5 separate regions of the Homo sapiens genome follow, and all the other regions are linked to region 2. The links come from fine-mapping of genetic effects on gene expression. A gene starts in region 2. Each other region holds a variant in brackets. All regions are shown on one strand. Distances are between the middles of the regions.

Region 1 (4,000 bases), 69 kb after region 2:
AGCACTCCTCCAGGCGCACCACCAGGTCTTCCTTCTCACTGATGGCTCCTGGTCCCCTCCTCCCACCCCTCCCCTCTCCCAGCCTCTGGGACCTGGGTGTAGACCCCCCTCTGGAACACACTCCTTATGGCCCCCTGACCTCCTACGCACCAGGAACCTGTGTCTGCCTCTTAATCTGCCACACCCCTGCCACCCTGACCTGGACCTCCCCAGCACTCTGCTTCCCGGGTCCCAACCCTCCCAACCCACTGTCTCCTGCATCGGGGACTCCAGGCCCTGCCCAGCCCTCGCATCCCTCAGGTAGCACCCCACCTCGTTTTGAGCCCTCTGTAGCCTTACCAAGCTTGGACTCTCACATGGGCCCTTGCCCCAACCTTCCTCCTTTCCCCAGCCCATTAGTGACCAGGCCAGATGACCACTGAAGTTGAGACACTGTTTGGGCTGCAAATGACAAAACCCAACTCAAACCAGCTGCAGCTGGACAAGACATGCCTTATCTCAAATACCTGGACACAATAGAGGGTCGGGGGCCTCAGCCAGAAATGGATCCAGGGACTCAAGCAATGCCCCAGGGTGCATGCACACTGGCTCCCTCTTTCTGTCTCTTTCACCTGTGTTGGCATCACACTCTCCTGCTGCAGACAGGCCCCCATGGGAGAGGGCACAGGAGCTCATCATAGTAGCTCCACCTCAGGTTCTCATGTGGCCATTATCTCCCAGCCGCATCTAAACAGAAAGTGCTGGGGGGCAGCTCTGGTTGGTCCTGCTTGGGCTGAATGCCCACCGTGGACCAATCTCTGGCACCCCAGCACCCAAGTCCTTCTTCAAAACCTCTGTGGCACCGACAGCCCAGCCCCCTGGGTGTATTTGCATGTGTGTGTGTGCACGTGGACACACATATGTGCCAGTGAGCTTGTGAGTGTGTCTGCATCACTCAGAAGCCGGGATCGGGATCAGGACCAGGATCCCTCCTTGTGGGTCTCTCCAGCCCTCACCTGAGCACACAACAGGCCCTCAACAGAGTTGCATGGGTCCTGGAAACTGAGGGTCACTGAGAGCAATGACTGAGGGTCGTGTGCTCAGCACTAGAGCAGACTTCACAGCCCAGGCCCGCTGGTGCTGGGGTCCCCCACACACCTGCCCACGCCTGCTGCCCTCCTGTGGCTGGGAGCGCACCCTTCCCTCTTGTACTCTGCAGCCCCACGGTTCAGTCCCTTGCATTGGATTGGGCGGGAGGCTCCTCCCTAGCACCTCTCCACCCGGCTGCCCTTGTCATTCTCTGCGTTAAACATCCCTCCCCCATCTCACAGGACAAGGGCTTGCACCTCTGCCTGCCTGGCCTCCTCGCCTCCCCTGGCACATTTCCTCAGGGATGGGTCTGGACAGCTGTGGGAGGAGCCACCCGCTCAGGGCACTCTACCTCCCACTCCAGGCCAACGCCACAGGGGGCGGTGGGCACGTGCAGATGGTGCAGAGGGCCATGAAGGACCTGACCTATGCCTCCCTGTGCTTTCCCGAGGCCATCAAGGCCCGGGGCATGGAGAGCAAAGAAGACATCCCCTACTACTTCTACCGGGACGACGGGCTCCTGGTGTGGGAAGCCATCAGGACGTGAGCGCCCGCGGGGCGGTGGTCCTG[G/A]GGGAGGAGCCGGGACCCCTGCCTGACTACCTGGGGCGGGCCTGGCCCCTCCACCGCTAGCGCTGAATGGGGACGGGGTGGGGGAGTCCCAGCGTCCGTGAGGGGGTTGCCGCCGGGCACCGCTCCGCAGACCTGGCTGGGTCGCCCACCCCGGCTGCGCCCCCTGAGCCAGGTTCACGGCCGAGGTGGTAGACATCTACTACGAGGGCGACCAGGTGGTGGAGGAGGACCCGGAGCTGCAGGACTTCGTGAACGATGTCTACGTGTACGGCATGCGGGGCCGCAAGTCCTCAGGTAGGGCCTCCGGGACGTCTCCGGACCCGGCTCCCCCGCAGTCGGCAGCGCTGGCCCCTCCGCCACCCCTCCGGGGTGTCCTGCCCAGGGTGCCCTCCGGCCTTGGGGCAGGGAATCCGGGCACGGGGTGGGCGCCGGGCCCTGGGGTCCTCAGGGACTGGGCCTCAGCCCGCCGGTGGTTCCACCCTAGGCTTCCCCAAGTCGGTCAAGAGCCGGGAGCAGCTGTCGGAGTACCTGACCGTGGTGATCTTCACCGCCTCCGCCCAGCACGCCGCGGTCAACTTCGGCCAGGTAGGCAGGGCCGGGCCCGCTGGGCAGGGCTCCCTTCTCAAGGCCGCTGCCTCCTCCCCCGCCCCGGTTCTGCACGCGTACTGCACCCTCGGACAGCCTCGGGGCCTGGCACGGGACTTGCAGGATGGATTCTGCCCGCTCAGCCAAGGGCGCTGGCCGCGGGGAAAGAGGATGGACGGACTGCAGGGCCCGCTGGAGTTGGGGGGCACGGGGAGGACGGGGCCCAGGGGGCAGCTGGGCAGCAGGGCTTCGGGGGTGCCCACGCTTGCTGGCGGTCGTCTCCGCAGTACGACTGGTGCTCCTGGATCCCCAATGCGCCCCCAACCATGCGAGCCCCGCCACCGACTGCCAAGGGCGTGGTGACCATTGAGCAGATCGTGGACACGCTGCCCGACCGCGGCCGCTCCTGCTGGCATCTGGGTGCAGTGTGGGCGCTGAGCCAGTTCCAGGAAAACGAGGTGAAGCTGGGCAGGGCGGGGCACAGCCCCAGGTCACCCCAGGTTAAGCGGTTCCTCAGCCTCAGGGCTTTGTGACTCGGGCCCCAAGGCTCACTTGGAGCAAAGGAATCCTGACTTCCAAGGCTGGAAGGGCCCAGAAGGCTGCAGCCGCCACCAGGTCCCCCGGCCTCAGCCTGGACAGAGCTCAGGGTGTGCAGGGCAGGAGAGCACACAGCCCAGGCTTTGCTCACTGTCACCAGAGGGTCGTGTGTGACGCCCCCTCCCCCCAGCTATTGACAAAGTTCTTGCACATGTGTTTTACCCTGGTACTCCAGAGGGAATGACCAAGAGTTTCCTGGGTTCCTTCCGGACACGTGCATCTCATTTAACCTAACAACTGAATCCGGTGTGTCTTCGTGGATGCACCCGCTTTGGGGTAGCTCAGTACTGCATAGAATGGCCGGACCAGTCCAACCTGCTCCAGACTGCTGGGTGTCTGAGTTGTTCCCGGCCAATGTGTTGGTCCCTCACTGGACATCCTTGTTTTTGTGGCTTTGCACATGTGTTCAGTATGACCGCACACATTCCTAGCAGACAAATTCCTTGGTCAAAGAATATTGATACTGAATTGCCCTCCACAAACTAAATTCAAAATCCCATTATCAATAGCCTATGTTTCTTGGACCTTTCCAGCTCAGAAGCTTTGTGATCTTAATCCAATACAGTATTTTTTTAAAATGATATCTAGCTCTGCCCCGCAGACATCTGTGTGAGAATGCAAATAAGCACAGGACCCCAACAGGGCAGCCACCCCTTCAGGCTCCCTGGCCCGCTTTCTGCCTTCCTGGGCTGGAGAGGCCAGTGCTGGCCCCAGCGCCCCTGATGGGAGGTGAGAGTGCTGCGCAGGGGTGGCCCAAGACAGCAGGATACCATGGCTGCAAACACCAGCAGCCCCCAGCTTCATCTGCATCATCTCGTAACCACTTGGCAGCAGGCAGTTATTTTCCCACTTATCCATGAAGCCCCAGCCCTGGAGCCTTCCTTAGAGAAGCAGGTTGGAGGCGACGACACTTGCCTTCCCGAGGCCCTCTTGTCAGGCAGCAGAGGGTGAATATGGGGAGGTGAATAGATGCTCCCTCCTTCATCTCCCAAACGGTGGCTGGCCCCTTGGGATGAGACAGGCCTGTCAGTTTACACGGGTAGTGGATTGACCTATGTGTGTGTCCATGTCTGGGCCCTCAGCTGTTCCTGGGCATGTACCCAGAAGAGCATTTTATCGAGAAGCCTGTGAAGGAAGCCATGGCCCGATTCCGCAAGAACCTCGAGGCCATTGTCAGCGT
Region 2 (4,926 bases):
CTAGCATCAAACTTAATACAGAAAGGCTGGGTGTTCACCTCTTGAACCAGGAACAAGACAAAGATGCCTGCTTTTGCCACTTCCATTTGACCTTGTACTGAGGTTCTGGCTAGGGCAATTATCCCTGAAAAAGAAATAAAAGGCTTCCAAATAAAAGAAGAAGTAAAACTATCTCTACTCGCTCATGACATGATCTTGCATATAGAAAATGTGCACATGTACACACACACAAACCATTAGAACTAATAAACAAGTTCAGCAAGTTTGCAGAATATAAAATGAATGTACAAAAATCAAGTGTTTTTCTATATACTAGCAATTAACAATCTCAAAATGAATTAAAATTCCATTTACAATAGTATCAAACATAAATTATTTAGAAATAAAAAGTGCACTGAAAACTACAAAATATTTTGAAATAAATCAGAAAAGATTTAAGTAAATGGATCACTTGAACCTGGGAAGCAGAGGTTGCAGTGTGCCGAGATTGTACCACTGCACTTTAGCCTGGGCAACAGAGGGAGACTCCAAAGAGTCGAAAAGAAAAGAAAAGATTTAAATAAGCTGAAACATATTCTATGGATCAGAAGACTTAATATTGTTAAAGTGACAATATTCCCCAAATTGATCTACAGCTTCAACTCAACCCCTATCAAAATCCTAGCTTGCTTTTTGGCTGAAATTGACAAGCTGATTCTATAATTTATATGGAATCTCAAAGGATCCAGAATAACCAAAACAATATTGAAAAATAAAGAACAGCGTTGGTGGATTAACATTTTCCAATTTCAAAACTTACTATAGCACTGCGGTAATCAAGCAGTGTGGCACTGTATAGCATGTACATTACAGATCAGTGGACTAGAATCAATGTCCAGAAATAAACCGTTATGTTTATAATGAATTACTTTTTAATAAGGTGTCAAGACAACGCAATGGGAAAAGAATAATGAATTCAACAAATGATGCATGGACAACCGGACATGCACATGCAACACAATGAATTTGAATTCTTCTATCGCTCCATGCATAAAAACTAACTCAAAATGGGTCACGGATGTAAATGAAAAGCTAAAACTATAATAATCCTAGAGGAAAACCTAGGAGTAAATCTTTAAGATGTTATTGTAGGCAGTGGTTTCTCAGATAGGACCCCAAAATCACAAGCGACAAAAGAAATTGGACTTAAAGTTAAATACTTTTGTGCTTCAAACATCATCAAGAAAGTGAAAACACAACCCGCAGAAGCAATAAAAATGTCTGTAAGTCATGTATCCGATTAGAGACTTCTATCCAGGATATATAAATAATGCAATTCAATGATAAAAAAGATAAATAGCCCAGTTTTCCAAAGAGTCAAGCATCTGAATATACATCTCTCCAAAAATATACAGATATCCAACAAGCATGTGAAAAGATGTTCAAAGCCATTTGCCAGGTGCACAAACCCAAGACAGTATGAGGAGATGCTACAGGGACTCTGCTGCTTCACAGACATGAAGCGTTGGTGAGAATGTAGGCAGCCGCCTTTGGGGACTTCACATCCCCGCCGCCCCACGCACGGTGAGCTAGTGTTTAAACTTAGCCGAGATCAATACACGCGACTGTGTGCCCGTCAGACCCTGCGCTGCCGGCGGGGCTGGGAGAGGCGGGCGCCAGGAGTGGGCGGGAACCTGGGGGTCAGGCCCCAGCCGCGGGAAGCCGCCCAGGAGCGCGCGAAACCTTCTCCACACCCTTCCAGGCATTTGCCCGCCGCGATTCAGAGAGCCGACCCGTGACCCCTGGCCTCCCCTAGACAGCCCCGCATGTCCAGATGTGCCGTCCCGCCTGCCTCCCGCGACCACTGGCCATCTCTGGGCCTGGGCGCGGTCTCGGCGCCCGCCTGCCCCCGCCAGGAGCCGCAGGTCCAGCCAGTGAAGAAGCCCGCGCTGAAGGAGCCTCTGTGCTCCAGAATCCATCCTCAGTATCAGCGCTGGGGTGGCCTCCTCCAGGAAGCCCTTCTGATTCTCTCATGGGTCGCTCTTCCTCTGCAGACTCCCGGAGCACCCCTGCTCCAAGTACCGCAAGTGGCACTGAGAACTTGGGGAGAGCAGAGGCTGTGCCTAGATTTGTAGGGAGTCCCCGCAGCTCCACCCCAGGGCCTACAGGAGCCTGGCCTTGGGCGAAGCCGAGGCAGGCAGGCAGGGCAAAGGGTGGAAGCAATTCAGGAGAGAACGAGTGAACGAATGGATGAGGGGTGGCAGCCGAGGTTGCCCCAGTCCCCTGGCTGCAGGAACAGACACCTCGCTGAGGAGAGACCCAGGAGCGAGGCCCCTGCCCCGCCCGAGGCGAGGTCCCGCCCAGTCGGCGCCGCGTGAAGAGTGGGAGAGAAGTACTGCGGGGGCGGGGGCGGGGGCGGGGGCGGGGGCGGGGGCAGCCGGGAGCCTGGAGCCAGACCGGGGCGGGGCCGGGACCGGGGCCAGGGACCAGTGGTGGGAGGAGGCTGCGGCGCTAGATGCGGACACCTGGACCGCCGCGCCGAGGCTCCCGGCGCTCGCTGCTCCCGCGGCCCGCGCCATGCCCTCCTACACGGTCACCGTGGCCACTGGCAGCCAGTGGTTCGCCGGCACTGACGACTACATCTACCTCAGCCTCGTGGGCTCGGCGGGCTGCAGCGAGAAGCACCTGCTGGACAAGCCCTTCTACAACGACTTCGAGCGTGGCGCGGTGAGCGCGGGCGGGGCACGGGTGGAGCGCGGGCTGAGGTGCGTCCGGGACCCGGTTTGGACGGCAGAGGCCTGGGCGGGGGCGCCGAGGGCCCGTCGGGGCGGCCCGGACAGGACTGGGGGTGTCCAGGACCCTGTCAGGGAGGGCAGAACTGCGGTGGGGCGTGCCCTGGGCTCCCAGTGGCCGGTGGGTACCCTGGTGGGCAAGCGTCCAGGACCCCTCGCGGCGGCCGCGACCCCTGTCGGAAACGGAGACTTCCCGCGTGCCGCCTGCAAGGCGTCTTCCCTGGGAGGAGAAGGCCCAAGGTTTCCCCTCCACTTCAAGATCTGGGCTCCGAGGCTCCGGAGCCCCCTTCACTGGGCCGCGTTTCTTGTGCCACCTCTTCCTTAGGCTCCTTCTGCAGGTCGCACAGGGAGGGAGAGGCAGATGAGTCATGCTCACAGAACTCTGAGGGCACCTCGGAGCAGCCAGCTGTGAGCCGTGGGGAAGGGTGCACGTCAGCGGGTCCAGAGGCCTGAGTTCTGTCCAGACATGACCACCAGCTCACTCTACCGTCTGTCTGGGCCTCAGTTTCCCCAGCTGAAAATGGAGGGTTGGCTTCAGTCTGGTCCATGAGTCATGGGTGAGCCCAGGCCCATCTGGTGGCTCAGACGGCACCTGGGCAGCTTACATTCTCAGGACAGTCCCCAGAGGAAATTAAAGGGAAGGAACAGAACCCAGGCCAGGAGAGGCTTTTCCTAAATGGAGGGGCTGCACTCCCTCCCAGCAGAATGTACACCAGGGAACACTTCCACGCTAGGTGTGAGGACGCGAGGGAGCCCTCAGCATTTGGAAGCTAGTTCCTAATGCTGATCTGGACCTGAATTCCAGCCCCACGACTCTTTTCCATGAGCATGGGCAGGTCGCAGTTCTCACTGAGCCTTTAATGAAGTGCCTAATCCAGTACCTGGCACAGAGGAAGCGCTCCGTAAATGACTGGTAATAGTCCCAGACATACTGCAGGTGCGCAGGGAATATCAGTTCCCTTCCACCCCACCCCAGCTCCTAACTGGACCAAAAAGATTTAGACTTTACCAAGCTGCCTTCTCACCATTTAGTTTATTATTTGATCAAACCTTGTGAAATTGCTCATAATGGACAAATACAACCGGCAAGTTCATGTTTCAACTGATTACTCTTGGATAAAATTTGTGTTTTAGGTGTGCAGAGCCTAAAGTAAGTAAAAACTACTCTTTTTCTGGATTCCAAGCTCTCCATGGGCTCGATTCCTATCCAGGAGCCCATACCCTCGCTGTAGCACGACATGGCCCTCAGCCAAGTTCACTAGCATCCTGGCTTGAGCTCCCTTCAAGAAGAGTTAGGTGTTGAGTACAAGAGCAACCTTCAGTTGCTTAGTTGCCCCAGTCGGGGAACTGACCCTGAGGACTGCGGTGCCCTGGAGTTAATGTGTCGTCCATTTAGGGTGATGGCACCCTCTGCCATTTCTGACGCACCTTCATTTACTTCCATTATTTCATGGATTCCCCACACCTGGGGGAGAAGGACAGGGTACAGGCTACTTCCCCTTTGTAAGTGCTTCCTCCTCCCCATTCTCCTCCACACATCATAAGGTTCTAGAAGCACAGGCCATTGGTGTGCTCACACTGCACAGCACGGGCACCCCGTGTGTGCTTTCCTCCTGCAGGGGACATGATAACGTGGCCATAGCGGGCTCTTCGGACAAAGAGTGAAGGCACTGTTTTGTCCACTATCTCCCTCTCTCGGTCTGTCTTCCCCTACCCTGAGAAGTCATTCAAATGACATTATAATTAAACACCTCAGCCGGAATCCCAGGGGCAAATTTCAGGAGAGATTTGCATGTCACATTTCCATTGGGTTGAGAGGGCTATAAGTCAGGGGTGGGGCGGGGGGTGGTTGGGGGTGGGGGCTACCGCAGGGTGGGGAACCAGCTAAGGCTGAAAGTTTCCTTGAAAAAATCAGCTTTTGAGAAAGTTCCTGTTGATGCAAAGTTACTCAACACTTTCTCTTGCCCAGCCCAGAACTACTTCCTCATTCTCCCAGCTTGGTATCTGTAAAGACAATCATCCTTTTTGGGTAAAGGTAAAAGAGAAACCCTAGAGGAAGTACTTGCTGAGAAGACAAGGTTATCCCATTTTACAGGGAAAAGTGTTAAAATCTGTATTGTTAACAGTAGTAACGATAACAATAACAATAAAGGTA
Region 3 (4,929 bases), 150 kb after region 2:
CACCCTTTGGCCTGCAGTATGTATGGGAACACTGGATTGTAAAAGCAAATTAAAAGGACAGACAGTTTGGCACAATGGTGGCAACAGTGGTGAGTAGCACAACAAGAAGTCAAAACATGGACACCAAATTTCCCTGGAGTATCAGCTAGTTGACAGTAGAGTTGTGAATCCACTAGCACTTAACCAAGTTATTAAAAACTTTTCTTATGGACTATACACGTGAACAATTCTACCGATGTTTTAGGGCCTCCTTCCATTCCCCATCCCAAGAATAGTAATATGAATATAATGTAAAAAGAGAACCTCTTAAGAAGGGCTCAAAATAGTTTGGATATTTGTCTCCACCAAATCTCATGTTGAAATTTAATTGCCAATGTTGGAGGTGTGACCTGGTGGGAGGTCGACTGGATCATGGGGGCTGATCCCTCAGGAATGGTTTTTACCACCATCCCCTTGGTGCTGTCCTCATGATAGAGTGATTTCTCAGAAGATCTGGTCATTTAAGAATGTGTGGCACCTCCCCAGACCTCTTGCTCCTGCTCTCGCCATATGAGACAACACTCTCCCTCTGCCTTCTGTAAGCAGCCCAAGGCCTCACCAGAAGCTGAACAGATGCCGGTGTCAGGCTTCCTGTACAGCCTACAGAACCACGAGGCAATTAAACCTCTTTATGAATTACTCAGTCTCAGGTATTTCTTTACAGCAACAAGACAGCCTAACATAAGGGCTTAGAACTGCTATAACTAAAACTTCACACAAAAAGACTCTGGAATACAGTGCCCTTCACATTTTCTTGTATACCTTCATGAAAGTCTATATTCTCCATGTCCTCCTTAGCAGACTGATGTCTGGGTGAACAAATATATAACACAGGCAAGGATTTGCAATGTTTTTTCATGACAAATGTCAAACAAGCATAAGAGACTGCTAGGCACTATTAATTGTAAGTGATAAACTAACCCTCCAATTTTAAGATGATCGTGATCTTAGCAATCTATGTTTCTTGAATATTTTAAGTTAAAACTTAATTTTTTTGCATTATCAGGTACTTCTCTCAGAGACTAGGCTTCCTGGCAGCTAATACAAGAGGTGATGAGTGCACATCGTATCTCAGGTGTCTCATAAAGAATTCTGGTTGCTCTTGGTTGTCTGAGATAAAAGGCCTGATGACTATGGAGGGGCAGGCTTTCATAAGAATTATCAATGAAGGCAAGGTGATGGTTATCAGGCAAGTCCTTCCAACCTTCAGAAGAACTCTGAATTAAAGTTGGACTGACCCCTGAGTATCTGTGATTCTACCATCACAGTGCCACATCAGTACAGAAAAGAGAGCTCCGATGACACAGAACGCAGTTTGCAGCTTGATGACATGTGTATTCTCGCACTGCTGACATTACAACCAAGACCTCAGAACTCTTAAGACAACAGCAATGGTATGTCCTTGAGGCAGCAGGAAAGTATCAACAACCTACCTGCCTGCAGTTCACCCATTCATGGATTTTCCCTGCCTAGACTACTGCTCTAAAGACTCTGATCTGAAGAACTTTTGCTTTCCATGATCTTCAAAACCTGCCTCCTCAAACACTGCCCAATACTCTAGACGAGATATCCAGTTTGCTCTGACCTTTACTGTACATGTTTGGTCCTTCCAGAATATTAGGAGCTTCCTCAACTCCTAACAGATTGCCCAAGGGAGCATCCTGTGGAATGGAAATCCGTTTCCACATTATCTCTGTAATGCCAATCCTGCTGATCTCAGTTCAGCAGCAAACTGTAACCCCTGGACACTGGTATGGTTCTAGAGCCCTCTTGTAACTTTCAAGAGCATTCCCAAAGCTACCAGCATCCTATCATTGCTCTTGGCCAGAATGGCTCTAATAAAGCATGTATCATACACTAATCAAAATGGCTTAGCTTTTAAACCACTGTACTTGTGAGAGGACCTAGTAACACCTTCGTAACACTTCCTTTGTCAGTGTTACAAAAGAAGTAACAAGGATCCCACCACCTTGTAAAAGCTCTAAAAGATATGCTGGAAGGGAGTCTACACACACAAAAAAACTTCTGACAGATTTCACCAACTGCTGTCTTTTTCAATTTGATCTTAAAATGAAAATATAAAATATGTGAGTAAAAATTTAAAGTGCCATTCGTAAAGGATTGAATATATCTTCATTCAAGCATGGGTATCATGTGGATACCATCCCTTTGTTCATGAGTAAGGTATCATCTGTACAATAAGGAGTTCCTACTCTATTACATGAGATAAACAGGTAAACAACTAACAGATATGACTATGTGGCAAAACTAAATAAACGCCATATCAGAGATACAGATGCTAGTTTCTTGTATCCTCCCACTACCACCCATCCATCCACAATGAGAACAGAAAGGAAGGAGACATAAGGGAAGGTTTGGGAAGTCAGTAAGTAGACTACTGCAATAATCTAGATCAAGGGTCAGCAAACTTTTTCTGTAAAGAGCCAGAGAGGAAATATTTTATGCTTTGCAAGTCATATTCTCTATTACACCTACTCAATTCTGCCATTGTCAGACAAAAGTAGTCACAAGGAAATGAGCATGGCTCTACTCCAATAAAACTATATTTATGAAAACTGAAATTTTGATTTCATATCATTTTCATGCATCGTAAAATATTAATCTCTTGACTTTTCTCCAACCATTTAAAAATGTAAAAACCGTTTTTAGCTGGCAAGTCATAAAAAACAGCAGTGGCTGGATTTGGACCATGGGCTATGATTTGCCAGCCCCTGACCTACACGGCTGCCTGAAATACAGCAGTAGCACCAGGGCAGAGAGGAAGGACAAAGAAAACATTTCAGAGGTGGAATCAGTAAAACTTATTGATGAGTGGC[G/A]CATTAAGAGCAAAGTCGGCAAAAGGAGCTCCCTAGTTTCTAGCCCAGGTGACTCAGAGGGAATGTCATGAACAAATAAGAGCAGCAGCTCTCCTTCACCTGAGGAGGACAACAGCACCTGGAGTGCACCACTCACTGCCCAGGTGATGAGAACTACGCACTCAGCAGCAGTGACCCAAGACTCAAATCCCACCTCCATCAGTTATCACATACCCAACCTTTTTGATTCTCAGCTTCCAAATCAATCCATAAAGTGATCATGACCACAACAGTAATGCCTACTTCAAAGGGTTGCTGTAAGGATTCAATTTAGTGAGTTAACATATGGAAAGTCCTTGGGACAGTGCCTGGCTCACAGTAAATGATATGTAAGTGTTAGCCATTATTCGAAATATAAAAATTTTAATCCATAAATGTTATAGAGGCAATTTATAAATACCATATGTTGGCCTACTTAAATACAGTAAAAAACAGTATTCACAGTAATAAACATTCTTAAGCATTTAAACCATCTGTGAATACTTGACATAGTATACAGCATTATTTAAGCTAAATAATATCAAATTAAGTTCCTTTCATACTGGGGAAAAAAATCAATGCTGAAGTAGTGCTGGCCAGGATAAACTGTACAAAGGTATGTGTGGTTCAGGGTAAAGCAAAGTCAGTCTTGAGAGTTAGAATGGGACGAGGGTCTAAAACAGGTGACAAGTACAACTGTGGCCTGGGCTAGTCACCAGATTTCTGGGGGACTCCATCAGGCGCTTTTCTTATGTTCTAAGAATTTACCTAGTCTACAAGTTCCATTCTACCACACGAGGGGGCGTGAAGCAAATACCAATGTGAGATTAAAACCTGCTGCAATTACTGTACTTCTAAAAACAAATCAGTCTGACAGCAAGAATGTAATTACATTTTTTATTAGGAGATAGAAAATACAAAATATTTTATGAGGATTAAATATAATTGGAATATTTTCTATGATTTGATAAAAAGAAGCATTAACTACTTTGTTGAATGATACACATTTCAACTGAAAGAAATCACAAAATACTTTTAACTTTGTTCTTTATCTGTAATATCTTGAAAAGTTGCTGTTCAAAGGTATATTGCTTTCTAGTTAATTACCCATCGTAGCAACTAAACCTGTGAACAGCTAAAAAAAATAATCAACTTATCTTTAATTACGTTACATTTTTTAGAAAACTATTTTCATCACTTGAAACTCACTCTGCTTTGCTTTTAAGGGTCTTTTCCCCAAAAGTTCTTCATTGAAGAACAATTGATGGGGAATGAAGTCACTTTTATAAATCTACCTATGATATATCTGAATCCAGAATGTGCCCAAATACCTTCATTTTGAAGCCTCTTGAATAAGACAGGAAAAGATAAACTGCCTAGGCAGGTATACCATGATTTGATTAAGCAGTAAAAAAGATTACCCAAAACCAGTAATTCCAAGTATTCCTTTGTTTGATGACCTGATTTTTATTCCCTAGAACAATGCAGCATAGCAAAATTAAGAGACATAGTAAAATGTAGGGGCCTTTCCTTCTTCAGAGTCGAAAACTAGCTGCTCAGAAATGTGGGTGCATGAACAGTTTTAGGCTCAAGTGTATGTGGAAGGTAAAGATCTGAAAATGGAGTCGTTAAAACTGCCCATGCTTCTGCTCCTTTTGGAAAGTCTGCCTGTGCCTCCCAGACATGGTGCAAACCAATGTTTACATAAGATAACAAAAAATTTGGAATTAGATTTAAAATTATATGAATACCTAGGAAGTGTGAGATAACTTGCCCATTGGCCTTTAAATTATTTCGTATAATTTACTATTTATTATTGTCTACTGCGACGCTTTCTTCAGCTCACTTTCGGCAAGCATAATCTTTTATTTCCCAAAACTTTTGATTTGAAAAACTTTAAATCTACAGAAAAGCTAAAAGAATAGTACAATGAATACCTGTCTGTCCTTCACCTAGATGCATCAACTGTTATAAAATCTGCCCATTTACTTTTTCTTTCTCTGATATACATATTCTGATGCATAAAATTAACTGT
Region 4 (4,929 bases), 300 kb after region 2:
CCCACGCGGGCGTCTGGAGGGCAGCCGCATGGCCTGCTGGGAACGGCGGGGTTGAAGCCGGAGCCGCCCTCCGTGAGACCCACCGGGGATCCTCTTCCAGGCGCCTGATTTGCTGGAGATAGGCGATACAGGCAGACGCTGTCCAGTCGGTGGCCTCTCCAGAGTGAGGGGCGCTCCTGGTGCGTTTGGGCCGGCCTGTCCTAACAAATCTGCTTTAGGCTTCACCGTCCCCTAATGTTTCTGGCCTCAATTGCCTCATCTGGAAAATGGGGGCATTACCGTGCCTGCTTGAAGACAAAGGCGAAAACAGATAACTTTCTGTAGTCCTCATACAATTTACTGAGAACTGTAGGCCAGGCAATGGAGTAGGCACCCTGGGCTCAAATCCCAGCGTTGGGTAAGCCCAGCCACACCTCCTGCTCCAGTTTCCAAGCTGCTGAGCTGCGGTGTAAACAGTAACTGGCTTCAAGCCAACACCTGCCTTTCAACCTAACATGGGAGCCCACTGCCTCGTTCCGTTCCCCCTACCGATTTTCCAACTCCGTGAACCTCCTTCACTAAGTGGGTTACTCAGCTGACAAAGAATGTCATCTCACTCCCACTGCGGGTTCACTCATCCTCGACTTCTGGCTCAGAGGAGCCAGTCTAATATGAAACTAAACATCTAATCTGTGTCTCCTGTCCTCTCTCATTCTTCTGAGACCCTACCCACCAACTTATCTCCACAGTTCAACGAACTATTGAGCATACACTGGGGGAGTATGGTGAGGCACTGGGCATTGATTCACCAGTCTCGCCGTTGGTTCCTTCTGAAACTCCACATATGCTTAATGCTAAATAGATTGGAGACCTTTGAGGACAGAGCTATGATGGTAATCATCTTTGCATTCCTGAGCCTAGAATAGGGCCTGTGATGGAGACTTACTGAGTAAAAACCTTAGCGTTTCTCACCCTTGCCTGCCCACTTCATTCACACTGGAGAATTGACAGCATGGACCGTGGAGTCAGGCAGGTGTGTTTAAAGCCTTGCCTCCCAATACCAGAAGCTCCATTACCTGGCCAAGTCATTCATTCTTTACAACATCATCATCATTATCATCTGCCATTCTTCAAGTGCCAGATAGTTGATAAGGGTCTTTACGTATTCTCTCCCCATCACAATCCTGCAAAGTTGGTAGTGAAATCCCTCGTCTACAAAGGAGTAAACAAAAGCCAATTAAAGTAGAACAATTTACCTATAATCAAACAGCTCTATGTCGGAAAGCCATATTTAAACTAGGACACAATACAAAAATCCAACCTTGTTCCATTATTCCACATTGCTTCCAGATTTTAGCTTTATCTGTAAAATTAGTGTTACTACATTACCTATCTGATAGACCATGGAGACTGAATAAAATAGCATTAAAAGTTGTTACCATAGGAACTTTTTTTTAACGTAAGTTCTCTCTCCCTTTCAAGCCTCTCAAAATAGCAGCTTGCGTATTTTCTAAACCTGTTGTCTCCTGAATCCCCTGAAACCAATCCTACTGATTGATGAGTAGATTTAGTTGTTCCAAAAGAAAATCATCGTATTTAACAAATGCTGACTCTGACCGACATTGGGTACTACAGCAAGAAACTATGTGCACAAATAACCTACGGACAGAAGGAAGATGCATAAAATGAATAGGGGAAAGGAGTGGCCAACTAGCAAGTGCCCTCATCTGTCATCACGTCACTCTCACAGCAGACTTGGGCAAATGGTTGACCTGTGGGAGCTGAACAAAATCTTTGACTCTGGGTATGAGTAATTCCCTGTCTGATCTTACAGTGCCCAAGGAAGAAGTCAGTAGCTCCAGGATCGCTGAGACCAACCTGGGCGGCCTACAAGACTGCACCATGGTGACAGGCTGAATAGTCAGCAGCAAGACGACAGAGCACCAAAAAACACAGACTAGAATGGGGTCAGCCATCCAGGTGGCTAGTGGCTACTGCCTTTGACGATGCAGATAAAGAAAATTTTCATTCCTGCAGAGTTCTATGGGGCAGTGCTGCTCTAGAGGCTGACATTTCTATCCTCAGCACTTCCCCCGGCTATTACCTAGGTTCATTCTGCTGCTTCCACAAGGCAAGAATGGAACAGAATGCCTTAGAGCAATGGTCAGCGAACTGTTTATGTAAAGGGGCAGGGCCAGGCGCAGTGGCTCACGCCTGTTATCCCCGCACTTTGGGAGGCCGAGGCAGGTGGATCACGAGGTCAGGAGTTCAAGACCAACCTGGCCAACATGGTGAAACCCCAACTCTACTAAAAATACAAAAATTAGCTGGGTGTGATGGCAGGCGCCTGTAATCCCAGCTACTCGGGAGGCTGAGGCAGGAGCATCGCTTCAACCCAGGAAATAGAGGTTGCAGTGAGCCAAGATCACATGACTGCACTCCAGCCTGGGTGACAGAGCAAGACTCCGTCTCAAAAAAATAAATAAAAGGGGCAGATAGAAAACATCTGAGGCTCTGTGAGCCATCCGGTCTCGTCATAATTACTCAACTCTTACATTGGAGGTAGGGTGAAAGCAACAATAGAAAGTAAGTAAATCAATGAATGTGGTTGTGTTCCAATAAAACTTTATTAACAAGATCAGACAG[TGGG/T]GGGGGGGGGGTAGCATAGTTTGCCAAACGAAAATCCAATAAAAATTTATTAAAGATTTAAATGTGGCCAAGCGTGGTGGCTCATGACTGTAATCCCAGCACTTTGGGAAGCGGAGGCGGGTGGATCACAAGGTCAGGAGGTCGAGAACATCCTGGCCAACATGGCAAAACCCTGTCTCTACTAAAAGCACAAAAATTAGCTGGGCGTGGTAGCGCGTGCCTATAGTCCCAGCTACTCAGGAGGCTAAGGCAGGAGAATCACTTGAACCCGGGAGGCGAAGGCTGCAGTGAGTCGAGATCGCACCACTGCACTCCAGCCTGGGCAACAGAGCGAGACTCTGTCTCCAAAAAAAAAAAAATCAAAAAACAACATTTAAGTGTAAGACCTGAAATGAGAAAACTTTTCTTTTAGGTTTTTGTCTAGAAGTTTCTAGGTATTGATCTTGACAATAATTTACAGAATATGTCACAAAAGTGGAGACATGAAAAGCCAAACTAAACATGGGACAATGCCAAATTGAAAACCTTCACAGCAAAGAAACCAATGAACAAATTAAAAAGCTTTTTAACAATTATCCAAAATACCTAAAGAACTTGTATTAATAAATAGGAAAAAAAACTGAAACAAAACAGAAAAGCATCAAAAAGCTTAAAAATAAGCAGATTTGGCCGGGCACGGTGGCTCATGCCTGTAATCCCAGCACTTTAGGAGGCCGAGGTGGACGGATAACCTGAGGTCGGGAGTTCGAGACCAGCCTGACCAACATGGAGAAACCCTATCTCTACTAAAAATACAAAATTAGCCGGGCATGGTGGCACATACCTGTAATCCCAGCTACTAGGGAGGCTGAGGCAGAAGAATCTCTTGAGCCCGGGAGGCGGAGGTTGTGGTGAGCCAAGATCATGCCACCAGTCTGGGCAACAAGAGCTAAACTCCGTCTCAAAAAAAAAAAAAAAAAAACATGTTCAGCAAGGTTGAAGCATCAAAGGTTAATAGCCAGAATCATTTATCAATTGTATTTCTACACATCTGCAAGACACAATCTGAAAATGAAATTAGAAAAACAACTTCATTGGGCAACAAGAGCAAAACTTCATCTCAAAAAAAAAGAAAAAAAAAATAGTAATCTACAATGTCATTTCCTGTTCAAGCTTGACTTCTACCTTTACTTTCTGATATGGTTTTGCCATGTCCCCCCACCCACATCTCATCATGAATTATAATCCCCATAATCCTGATGTGTCGAGGGAGGGGCCTAGGGGGAGGTGATTGGATCACGGGGGCAGTTATCCTCATGCTGTTCTTGTGATATTCAGTAAGTCCTCATGAGATCTTATAGGGTTTTGTTTTGTTTTGTTTTTTGGATGGAGTCTTGCTCTGTCACCCAGACTGCAGTACCATGGCGCGATCTTGGCTCACTGCAGCCTCTGCCTCCTGGGTTCCAGTGATTCTCCTGCCTCAGCCTCCTGAGTAGCTGGGATTACGGGCATGCGCCACCACACCCAGCTAATTTTTGTATTTTTAGTAGAGACGGGATTTCACTAAGTTAGCTAGGCTGGTCTCGAACTCCTGACCTCAGTTGATCCACCTGCTTTGGCCTCCCAAAGTACCAGGGTTACAAGTGTGAGCCACCAAGCCCAGCTGAGATCTGATGGTTTTACACATGTTTGACAGTTGCTCCTTCACATGTTCCCACTCTCTGTGCGGCCACCATGTAAGTCGGACCTGGTTCCCCTTCTGCCATGATTGTAAGTTTCCTGAAGCCTACCCAGCCATGCGAAACTGTGAATCAATTAAACCTGTTTCCTTTATAAATTATCCAACCTCAGGTATTTCTTTATATCAGTGTGAAACAGACTAATGTGCTTTCCGATAATCATGCTTCAGGAATTGGGGAATTCAGACTACCTGGGATCAAATTGTGGCCCCAACCTTAGCAGCCATGTGACCTTGGGGAGGTTACTTACCTTCTCCATCTCAACTCCTTCAGTAAAATCTGTAAAATGACATTGTTTCTGAGGGTTAAATGAGCATAGCACAGTGTCAGGCACACACTACTTGCCAGATGTCGAGTATTCATCTTTATTGAAATAGGACTGTGGTAAGCCACTTTATGGCTCTCGATTTTGTATGAGAAAATCATGCTTAGTGCCTTGTTAGTAAAAGAAAGAAAACCTGAAAGTCCCTGCCACGGAAGGAAGAAATAGCGGGGAGAAAAGGGAGTTGGTAAGTTTCAGCATTTCAGAGCTTGGAGAGGGACAAGTTAGGTTTCCATTTTATGGAGAAGGAGGTGGAGGCAG
Region 5 (4,000 bases), 45 kb after region 2:
TTCTTGGTTGGCTCAATTGCAGGTGAGAGCCCAGATGTCTCTGCCCAGAAATGGAGATACATCCATAGGGACGCACCCGCCCCTGCCATCTCTCAGGTCCTACATGCATAGGATGCTCCACCGTGGGGAGCCAGCAGGGCTTTGCAGAGCATCTCTTGTCTCTGACCTAGCTGTTTCCTTTGCCACACCCACCCTCCCCACTTCTTGGCCAAGACATGGGTGAGGGGCCCCTTCTTGCAGAAGCTTCTAGAAGCCTCTGGCCCCAGTGAGGTCCCCTCCCCTGTACTCCCCAGTGCCGCCCACCCTGCCCTTGGCCCCAGAAGTGCTGCAGCCCACGTTTCTCCACATCGTCCTGTCATTAGCCCCTTGAGTGATGGCCTATTGGCAGGAGCAGAGCGAAGGAATCCTGAGAGGGGCCCTTCTGCCCCTCCTGGCCCAGCAGGCTGGACAGTAAGCTTAGCCCCACTCTGAGCACCGCCTCTGTGCTGGCACAGTGGATGGAGACCCTTGAGTTCTGCGGGGGAGAGAAGAGGTGTCCCTGTATTTGAGGAGCTGAGCCAAGGGGGCTGGACCACAAGGAAGCAGCTTAGAGGAGCCTGTGTGGGGATGAGGGGTGCCTGGGAGAGGGCCCTGGGCCGGTGGGGGTTGGGGGGACCCTAGGAAAGTCGTCTAAGTTCCCTGAGCCTCGGTGTCCTCAAATGAACAATGAGACCCGGCCCCAGCTCCTCCCCAGGGTTGTGAGATTAAAATGGGATCGCACACATCAGCCCCTCAGGGAAGTTTCTCCCTAAAGACAGCCTTTGTCTTCTCCATTCTTGGTTCAGGCCCTCTGGGACCGCGTCTCCACCATCACACACCGGCCTAGGGCTGCACTCTTGGAAGGGCCCCTGCGCTTGCAGGGTGGGCAGGGGACCCTCGCTTCACCTGGGCGTCCTCTCTGATGGGGCCCAGGAAGGCTTTGCAGCCGGGGGCCATCTGACCAGGTCTTACTGGGCCCAGGCAGAGGTACGTGGGGCCTGGAGAATGGCACAGGGGGCTGCAGCGGAGAGAGACTGTGGGCACAGGTGTGGCGAGGCCAGGCCGCCGAGAGCCAAGTGGTTTGCGAAATTTCCTGGTGGTGTGGAGGGAGGAAAAGCTGATGTGTTCACCTCCCCACTCGCTGTTTGCAGCCTGGAAGACGATTGCAGGGGGTGGCAGGGCTGAAAAGACAATGTCCTCATTAAAGGAAATTGAGAAAGAGAGTTTCCTTCCCAGTGGGGCGGGACAGTGCAGAAATGCGGCCGGTCCTGGAAGAGGTGGGGGCGAGGGGTCGGGGGCTCACACGCCCTGCGATTTCCTCCCATGAGAATGGGCGGGGGCAGCTCCGGGAAGGGTGGCGGATGGAGCCGCCCTCTCCCCAGGACCACAGGGGCGCTTTCCAGTGAAGGCGCCGTAGGAAACGCCAGTCTGTGCCGCAGTGTACGTAGAGGCGCTATGAGCCCGAGTTTCCCACGTCCAGGGACAAACTGGGAGCCGTGACTGTCAGGCCGCGCGGAGGCTGCCCTGGCCGCCTTTGCGGTCAGGTGAAGGCGCAGAGGCAGGGAGGCCGGGCGAGCGCAGGCGGGCGGAGAGCAGACCACGCGGAAGAGGCCGAGAGAGAAAGCGGG[G/A]CACCCGGCCGGGGGGGTCATTTACAAGGGACGCTGGGCACGAAGGAGGCTGGGGCGAAGATGAGTCCAGGGGTTGGGTTGAGAGCGCTGCGCAGCCGGGCTGAGAAGAGAAGCTGACGAGTGACTCCCGACAAGGGACGGGGGAGAGGGAACCTGGGGGCAGGCAGAGGCCTAGGGGGTGGGCTCTGAGGGCAGCCACTCCCACCGGCCCTCCCCCAGCCCCGCAGGCCAGCCACATGCCCCGTGCTCCAGACGACCCAGCTACATGGATGGCAGCGTCCTGAAGGGGGATGATCGGTAGGGAGTGGGTGCGGAGGCTCACGCCTGTAATCCCAGTGTTCGGGGATTCCCGAGCGGGAGGATCGCTTGAGCCGGGGAGGTGGAAGCTGCAGTGATCTGCGCCACTGAACTCCCGCCTGGGCGGCAGAGTGAGACCCTGTTTCAAAAGGCACCAGGGGTGTAGGGAAGGAGCGATATCCCCCAGGCAAGGAAGGCTGCGGAGGGGCCAGGCCAGGAGAGAAGGGCCCTGAGCTCAGTGGACGGGCAGGGTGCCTGTGGAGGAAGGGAGGGACGTAGCAGCAGGAGGAAGGGTGAGGACCCAGGCTGGGGATCGGGAGAAGTGATGGCGGAGGAAAGAGAGGCCGGAAGAGGAGGGGGCCTGCTGGCCTGGCACTGGAAAGCAAAGCGTGGGTTTGTATATGGGAAGAAGACCACATCCCCTCTTATCGTCATCCCAACTCAGAAACCATTTGGCCCCAAGTCACCAAAGCACTCATAGGAACCACTTTTCCTGTGACACAAGTAGGATTCTCCCACTTTTAACTTCCCAAATGCTACCCGAAAGCCTCTGAAATCCTTGGAAATTTAAAAAATAATCCCCTTCTATTAACTGATGCCTATAAAACATATTGACTTTCATTAAATTTTGTTATGAAATCAGGGATGTGTCCCATTGTAAAATAAATTTGTTTGGAAAATGTAGGGTGGTATCCCATCTAAAAATCAGACGAGGCTAGAAAATTTCAATTTTATTTGCTAAGGTAGCATCATGTTGTTAAAAATGCATCATAAAATAAGACCAAGAGTTAATACAAAGCATGAAGTCATGTTTCCCTCAAAAAAATGATTTGTTCTGTAGTCAAATTAATTTGGAAAACATTGCAAACTCTTCAGCAGTGGTTCTCAAAGTATAGCTTGCGTCAGAATCCCCTGGGGCCCTTGCTAAAATCTGGATGGCTACACTCCCCGCCTAGAGTGGGTTAAACTCAGTGCCCACTGGCAGGAAACTGAAACTTGGCTGAAGTCACCGAGGAGGCCTTCCCCGTTAAACCTCTGGCTGGCGACAGCTTGGTTTCCTCGCCGCTGCTTCTGAGTAATTCTGGCACGCAGTTCCTCCTAGCCACCTGCTGTACCTGGAAGGGGGCCAGCCCTCCTCAGCAGGCTTTGCTCCTGCCCTGCACAGCACAACTGTGGCGTAAAAAATGGAAAAGCTGGTAGCAGAAGGAAAGAGCAGGGAGACAGAGGTTAGGTGAACCTCAATGGCCTCATTAAAGCAAATTGAGAAAGAGAGTTTCCTTCCCAGTGAGGCGGGACAGTGCAGAAATGCGGCCCGTCCTGGGAGAAGTAGGGGCGAGGGGTGGGGGGCTCACCGGGCACATGGCCAACAGCTGGTGCCCAGCCTGGGCCACAGTTTGGCACAGGAGAAAGCTGAAGATGCAGGAGAAAGCTAGGTCACTGCCCCTAGGCCAGGTGATCAAGGTGGCTGTTACCTGCCTGTGTGGCCTTGAAAAAGCCTGGTGCCCTCTCTGGCTTGCAGGGTCCTTCTTTTTACAAAAGCGGGTCTTCGAAGCCCTGAATATTCCAGTTATCTGTAAGGATATAGAAATATTTTGCCTCTAGATGACATGTAAATATGTTCCTCCTAACTCCACTTCTTCCTACATCTGTGGCTTCTTCTGAGAACTACCAGACCCACCCTGTTTTCAGAGTAAACCTCCTGTTTTGAGGTCAAACAGACCCAGCTGGGTAATTGGTGACTCACTCCTGGTTCCTCCAAAGAACAGGGGCAAGGGACCACCCGGGACCTCAGGTGCCCCAGCACAGGACCTCTTTCTGGGGCACCCTCTGGCACTGGGCCATCTTCAGGCCCTACAGGGCTCTCGGGGCCTGCGTAGGCCTCTCATCTCCCAGAAATAAGTTCTTTTCCCCACCCAGACTGACACCAGATGCTACAGTGAGGTTTACCCCTCCAGCTTGACAAGCATTCCTAGCCCAGAACACTCAGCTGACGAGGGGTGCTGGGGGAGGAAGGAGGCAGCAAGGCTGAAAGAAGCTTCTCTGGGTATTCCAGTGCC

What was found. PIP is the estimated chance that this variant, and not a neighbour inherited with it, causes the effect.
Region 1: its variant is fine-mapped to the expression of ALOX5 in whole blood (INTERVAL, PIP above 0.99).
Region 3: its variant is fine-mapped to the expression of ALOX5 in whole blood (INTERVAL, PIP above 0.99).
Region 4: its variant is fine-mapped to the expression of ALOX5 in whole blood (INTERVAL, PIP above 0.99). The same link has a PIP of 0.9 or more in monocytes.
Region 5: its variant is fine-mapped to the expression of ALOX5 in whole blood (TOPMed, PIP above 0.99).

What each region holds. Positions count from the first base shown.
Region 1 is chr10:45,441,606-45,445,605 of GRCh38, forward strand. ALOX5 (arachidonate 5-lipoxygenase) reads left to right here. Exons shown (of 14, transcript NM_000698.5): 10 at 1,433-1,611; 11 at 1,811-1,932; 12 at 2,123-2,223; 13 at 2,511-2,681; 14 at 3,903-4,000. LOC102724323 (a long non-coding RNA gene) reads right to left here. Exons shown (of 3, transcript NR_120674.1): 3 at 2,963-3,247. Among named protein-coding and RNA genes, the nearest start is that of ALOX5, 69 kb to the left of the region's middle. RefSeq lists a silencer at 1-208 and enhancers at 565-1,335, 1,336-2,104. The variant G/A (reference allele first, on the strand shown) is at 1,639.
Region 2 is chr10:45,371,724-45,376,649 of GRCh38, forward strand. ALOX5 (arachidonate 5-lipoxygenase) reads left to right here and starts at 2,493. Exons shown (of 14, transcript NM_000698.5): 1 at 2,493-2,706. The coding sequence starts at 2,557. RefSeq lists enhancers at 2,261-2,871, 2,872-3,480.
Region 3 is chr10:45,516,994-45,521,922 of GRCh38, forward strand. The region is part of intron 2 of MARCHF8 (membrane associated ring-CH-type finger 8); the gene reads right to left. Among named protein-coding and RNA genes, the nearest start is that of MARCHF8, 16 kb to the right of the region's middle. The variant G/A (reference allele first, on the strand shown) is at 2,877.
Region 4 is chr10:45,673,002-45,677,930 of GRCh38, forward strand. No RefSeq gene overlaps it. Among named protein-coding and RNA genes, the nearest start is that of ZFAND4, 2.7 kb to the left of the region's middle. RefSeq lists a silencer at 1-73. The variant TGGG/T (reference allele first, on the strand shown) is at 2,626.
Region 5 is chr10:45,417,650-45,421,649 of GRCh38, forward strand. All of the region lies in intron 4 of ALOX5 (arachidonate 5-lipoxygenase), which reads left to right. Among named protein-coding and RNA genes, the nearest start is that of ALOX5, 45 kb to the left of the region's middle. RefSeq lists enhancers at 1,290-1,983, 1,984-2,675, 2,704-3,205. The variant G/A (reference allele first, on the strand shown) is at 1,647.